2 separate regions of the Homo sapiens genome follow, and region 2 is reported to be linked to region 1. The links are microRNA targets in miRTarBase. Many come from high-throughput screens and were not tested one by one. Region 1 holds a microRNA gene; the other region holds the end of a gene's coding sequence. Distances are from middle to middle.
Evidence for each region. The annotated mature microRNA hsa-miR-4418 reads CACUGCAGGACUCAGCAG and lies in region 1 at 1,701-1,718, opposite strand. An mRNA with a match to its seed (bases 2 to 7 or 8) in the 3' UTR can be bound and repressed. Matches are read on the target gene's strand: a 7mer-m8 pairs with bases 2 to 8, a 7mer-A1 pairs with bases 2 to 7 and ends in A, and an 8mer does both.

Region 2: miRTarBase lists PNRC2 as a target of hsa-miR-4418. Seed matches in the 3' UTR shown: 7mer-A1 at 1,632-1,638.

Annotation. Positions count from the first base shown.
Region 1 is chr1:22,264,717-22,267,994 of GRCh38, reverse strand. MIR4418 (microRNA 4418) reads right to left here and starts at 1,756; the gene lies at 1,695-1,756. RefSeq lists enhancers at 1,014-1,533, 2,190-3,072, 3,073-3,278.
Region 2 is chr1:23,961,307-23,964,584 of GRCh38, reverse strand. It overlaps PNRC2 (proline rich nuclear receptor coactivator 2), which reads right to left. Exons shown (of 3, transcript NM_017761.4): 3 at 1,123-3,145. The coding sequence starts at 3,127. The coding sequence ends at 2,708. It overlaps SRSF10 (serine and arginine rich splicing factor 10), which reads left to right. Exons shown (of 6, transcript NM_054016.4): 6 at 1-238. Among named protein-coding and RNA genes, the nearest start is that of PNRC2, 3.1 kb to the right of the region's middle.

The DNA of each region.
Region 1 (3,278 bases):
CTGTATCCCAGGGACACCAGACCCTGCTGCCCTGGGCCAGCTGAGAACCCCCTGCGCCCCCCCTCCCCTGCAGCCCCCAGGTGCGGAGGAGGGATCTCTCCAAGGGAGCGAGACGATCAAAAGGAGGTGCCTGTAAATCACCACGGAGCCTCCCTCTCTGCTTTCCATGCACCGGGGAGCCTTCCCAGAGCTCAGATGTGGTTCAAGGACCCCTCGGAGATCCCAGCCTGACGTGGCTCCCTCCAGCCACGGTTCAGCCCCCTCGGCCAGGGAGGAGGGTGGGTAGGGGCAGGGGAGGCCTTCCACTAGACTCAGGTTTTTGCCACACAGGTCTGACTTCCCACTCCCACCCCAACAACGCACACACACACACACGCATGCACACACACGCATGCACACACACACATGCACACACACACGCACACACTCAGGCCCAGCGATGCACACGCCACACAGCTGGGGGCCAGCCACCCAACACCTTCCATTGGGCGGGAGGTCCAGCTTTGACCACCTGCAGCATCCCTGCCCAAACTAAGGCCATCTCAAAGGGTCAGTATGCCTAGGGCCATGTGCTCCTGGAAATTGTCCGGCCACACCTTCTCCCCAGAAGCCAACATTTGCTTTAGAAAAATTGGACTGATGCTTGAACCGGGAGGCGGAGCTTGCCATGAGCCAAGATGGCGCCACTGCACTCCAGCCTGGGTGACAGAGCAAGACTCCATCTCAAAAAAAAAAAAAAAAAGAAAAGAAAAATCGGATTGAAATGAACACCCAGGGCCCTGTTGCAGGGGGAATGGGGGATGCCATGAGGCTGCACCACGGCAGTCCTTACACCCCTGGGCAGAGGTTCCTGGACAGGTGAGTCAGTCTTCAGACCCCAACTCCTTCCGCCTACCTGGAGCTTCCTGTGCAGCGGCAGCTTGAAGCTGTGGGGAGCATGGTTAGAAGTCAGTTCCAATGACAGCTTCACCCTTTCCTTGTGGCCTTGGGCAAGTCACTTGGCCTCTTTGATGAGCTCCAGGTTCCCCGTTTATCAAGTTTATCAACCGTAGAGGGACCAGGCACATAGTAAATACCCCTCTCCTAAGCCCTGCCAGGGGCCACCATAGCTCATGGTCAATATGAATAATAAGGGGGCTGTGTGTCATCTCAGTCCCACACAGGCACCATCTCATTCAACCCTCACAAGCAGCCCGCCTGGGAGATACTCCTATTATCTCCACTTTACAGATGAGACGATGGGGCTCAGGGTGGTTAAGAACTTGTCCAAGGTCACAGGAAGATGCAAGCCAAGGTCTGTCTGATGCCAACACCCAGGTGCCCTGAATCAACTGCTGGCACTGCCCCTTAGTTCGGCTCGGCCCCACCTCAGCTGACCCCTGGGGCCTCTCCTAAGGCTCTAGAGGGGAGGGGCGTTGAAGCTTTGCACACACAAGAAGCCACACAGCCAAGCAAATGAGCGATGTGGCTCCCAGGGGAACTGGGCTCATGCCCCTGGACTGCTAATGGCCCCCAGGTTTACATCTTCCACTCCAGGCTTGGGTCATCAAATCCCTGACGTCCCACTCAACTTATCTGAGATGGGGCCTCCCCCGCCTCCCCTGCTCTGCCCTCTGTTCCCAAGCCACCACCACGTCTCAGTGGGTTCTGGCGACAGCCTCCTCACTGGTCCCCCACCTCCCACTTACTATCCAGAATTCCTGCTGAGTCCTGCAGTGACTCCCACAACCACCACGGTCACTCAGAGCAAAAACCAAAGCCCCCAGGAGGCCCCCCAGGCCCCTGGGTGACACAGAGGCTCTGCTGACTCCTCTCCTCCCACCCTCCCCCTCACCTGTCCACTCCAGCCACACTGGCCCCTTTGCCGTCCCTAGAACCCCCCAAGCATGCTCCCACCTAGGGACCTTTGACTAGCTGCGTCCTCAGCCTGGGCACCCTGCCTCCAGAGAATGACATCTCCAGCCTCTCATCCTTCAGGTCTCTGCTCAGGTATCTTCTCAGTGGCCCTCCCTGAGAGGCCATGTAACACAGCCCTCCTTTTCCCCTCACGCTGCTGAATTTCGTTCCCTAGCATGCGTCACTATGTGCCATATTACTAATGGCTTGTCTGTTTAATGTCTACCTCATCACAGAGGACACACGCTTCTATGAAAGTAGAAGCCTCTCCCGCCTTCTTATCTCCCGTTCATGCTTGGAGCCTAGAACAGTGCCTGGCACAAAGCAGACCCTCGAGAAACATTTTTTGAAGGAATGAATGAAGGAATGTTGGCATAGTGGTGGGGCTGAGGATTGGGAAGGAAGGGTGGAGAGAAGCAGGAAAGGGAAATGTATGGAAGCAGACATGAAAAAGCTGCGCAGAAGTGTGCATGTGTGTGCAGGGGTGGACACGACACACACACGCACACACACACAGGTGTCAGTACGGTAACCATGGATGAATCGCGAGGCCAACAGGCAGAGACACAAATGCACTATCTACTAACAAACACAGACGCACACCACACAGATACGCTCACACACAAATACACACACACATGCACATCCCCAGATATACACATACGTCCTCATACATGCATCCCCAAATATACACATACATGCACATACACCCTGGCGCGCACACACACACACACACACACACACACACACACACACACACACAGAGCTCCTTACCAGAACTCTGCTCTGGCCCCACATCCCCCTCACCCCAACTCTACACCCGGCTCCCAGGCAGGGAAGGAGCTTTTCCAGGTGACCTCACTGAGCGGGAGTTAAACTCCACCAGCTCTTTTTCAAAGCGGATTTGGCTCCAGTCTCCCTTGTAATCTGCTCCTGGATCAGTGCTCACAGGGGCGCTGGCCCTGGCCTAAGGTCAGGACCTCTCACCTTCTCCCAGGAAGTCCCACTGAGTCCTCCCCCACCCCCAGACCCCCAATCAGCTGCTTCCCCTGACCAGTATAACCTGCTGAGCTGAATTCTTGCTGGGTATTTTCAAACAATTCCAGTTATTTGGGGGGAGGGGTGGTACTGTGATCCCCAGGAGGGGTTTGGTATGGGGGTGGGGGCTAGGGAGCAGAGGGGATGCCCGTCAGGGTGGGACAGCCTCTAAGTTGCCTGTGCTGCAACAGCGACCTGGCCCCACCCCACTCTCTTTTTCAGCCTCTTCCAGCCCGACTCCAGCCTCTGTTTCCCGAAAACATGCCACCTTTCAAACCTCCAGGCCTTTCCACTTGCAGGGCCGTCTGCGCTTACTTCCCCAGTGAGTAAACTCCTCCACATCC
Region 2 (3,278 bases), 1.7 Mb from region 1:
TATTTTAAGCTTAAGGATAGGTTTTGGACCTGGATTCCATCATAGTATAACTGCCATCGAAAAGAAGACAAATTGAAATTACAGCATTTACCTAAGGTTCACAGTATGGCTGACTTCAGCAGCCTTACATGGTAAGTTCTCTGTACCAGCTATTTTTGGTTCTCGCAATTGCATCGACTTGGGAAATTCCTATCACCATTCTCTATATAGGCTAACCAAAACTTTTATCAGTACCTTTCCTAAAGTATGAAGTTAGGTAATCTTCCACTCCCACTTCCATTTACTCATTTTGCTTGAGTCAAACCAAAAATCTAGTGTATTACTAGATTAGTCACTAAAAATCTAGTGTATTCAATATATACACTAGATTCAATATATAGCTTAAAAACTAACAGACACCTAGGCTGAGATTTGTCCAATACATGAAGTTCAATTCTGCAATCCTTGGCATTGTTCACAGAAATTACCCTGGAAACAAAATGAACACCCAAATGCTGGTTCTGCCTTAACTCCAAATTGTTAACTAGTTTGCATGAAAATAATACAGCTTTGCCATGGGACTAGTTGTAGCATTTTAAGGATTACTCAAACTAGTTTTAAGATGCCCTATCATTTGGAATCTGTATCAGAAAGGTGTGGTTGTGATGCTTTTCTTCTGAGGGGTCCCCTTATATACTTTTCATTTGTCAACATACTTAAAACACAAGGGTTCTTGTCAACTTGATAAATTTGCTTATAATTTTTTTTCTATGAACCTAGATCATGGAATTAACTTTCAAAAGCTTTGCGATGTTTTCCATGTGTGGCCTTTTTTTTGCTTTTTAATTAACACTACTGGGAGAGAGAAATCCTAAGTAGTTGCTTAACTGCATAGCTGTCAAATCCTAGTATCTTCTGTATCAGTCAGCAAACTAGTTGCCCCTTTTCAAGCCAACAGTCCTATCACATTTTAGTTGTGACCTTTTTTATATATACGTATATATATATGATCAGAAATGTAGTGGTTCATAGTTCTGGAGTCTGAGAAATCCAAGAGTTTGGAATATTGTGAGTGTATTATGAGCTTCAAGTCAGTGACAAGTAAAACACATTTTTAAAAAGAATATTAAGCAATCAAAACCATTTTTAAAATAAAACCAAGCCAATGGGGAAAAATTTTATTTAATTTTATGCTTCACATTCATATCATGTACATTAAGTACTACATAAACTTGTCTTTAGGCTATCAATATTTAACTTGGGCAGTACTTCATCTTGATTTATTTGGAGAAATACAGCTTAGGCATCTGCTTACCTGCTTAGGCATCAAGAGGTGCCAAATTAGAAAATAGGGCATTAACAATCAAAATTTTTAAGCTGACCCACATACTTGCTACTGGTTTCGCTTATGTTTAAGCATTTAAAGTTGGCAAAACATGTTATCAATGTATTATGCAAGAGTTTACATCTTTTGCATAAGTGGTCCATTGGGTTGCACCTACCCCTTGACCAAACAAAAACAAAACATCACTGGCACCATACTCGAAACTACCTGTATCCTAGGTTATAAGATTGTGAAAGCCAACAATCTATAAGGTTGGAGGGACTCTAGTTAATCTTTGGGCTTAGAGGAGGAAAAAAAGATAGTCCCATACTGCATTTCACATCTCTTAAAAATAGTTTTAGCAGCTTAAACCTTTTTAGTTATAAAACTTATTACACTAGGGTTTACTTTGAAATATAGTTTACAACCAAATCAAGTATAACATACATACACTGGCACTTTAGCACAAGGGCAAACTTTAAAAACAAGTTATTTTGGACCTTTAAAATTAGGCCATATTATAAAAAACAGTCCACGGTCTTACATTCAGCAAATTCATACTAAAATACTCCATTTTTGTAAGATAAAGGCCAAGAAAACTTTACATATGCTACAAGTTTATTACAGATATTTACATGGCTCTTTCTCCCCTAGGTACTTAAAATTTTCACATTATCCAACTCCCCAAAGCAAGCTTTGCAGGAATGATGAGGCCAGAGCACTATTAGAATAGCTTGTGCAGTGCTGTAATACAAAAATGTATTTTGAAAGCTATTGAGTGACCATTAAATACTGTTTCTATAAAAAATGGTTTTGGTGTATTTGTTGACAGACACTTAATCCACTACATTTAATAAACAGGGCCATTGGGGTGTACTATGTCTCATTCTAATGAGCTCCAAATGCCCTTTCCACCCACTGTACAATTCACTAAAATGCAATTATTACGAAAAATTCACATTTTCTTTCAGCAGTGCATCAGGTTAGCATATTACTGGTTTGGGTGTTTCTAATATACTAAACCTTCAGATGTTTACCTAATTCTGAATCCTTGTGTTAGCTAGAAGCTTATAATCCGATTCACCAACTTTCAACAATCTACTGGTCCATGAATGATAAATTACTGTCTTCCCCTAACAATAGAAAAAGCTGATTCCTTTACCACTCCCCAAATCTAAACTTGGTTTCCACTTAAAAGTTACTCAGTTGAGAACACTTAATATCAAGTACAATCATTAGTTTAAGTTGCACTGATACTACCATTATATCACAGTGCACACAACACGAGATGGTCTATTTTTTTTACATTAATTAGTTCTACACAAATAGATTCCCTAGCGAATTTGTTTCAGACCAATTGACAACTATCCGTGAACATAACTAAATTTAAACATTTGTCTTATTTTATACCTGTACTTTAAGTAAGGTTTTAAGTTGAAATGTCATTATTTCCTTATCTGAAGGATTAAAGGAAACAGGGACCCAGTGGCTTGGTGGTTTGGGAAGAACACTTGGTGATGGCGGCTCACTAAATTTGGCACCAGCATAGTTCTGATTAGCTTGAGATTTAAAAAGTAACCTGGGACCTGATAAGCTAGAATTCCAACTTTGATTATTTGGAAAATTTTTGTTCTTCCCCCCATTTTGCATGGCCTGCCAGGCAGCTGCTGATGAGTTATAACCATGTCCTCTTTCTTTTTTCTTATGAACAATCTTCATCTGGGAATTCTGTTCCTTGGTCTTCTGTCTGTTAAGCTGTTGTTGGTTCTTACTAACATTTCTAGATTGAGGGGCTGGAATGTTATACCTCTCTCCACCACCCATCTTCAGCTTCTTTGTCACCTACAAGTGAATGGAAACAAATATTGAGTAAAATTCCATTAAGAAAAGTTCAAAATCTTTAAGAAGCTTCTATGGCTCCAACTTATAACTCCAGATATTTTGGACAAGACTCAATAACAGGCTATTCAGCTGC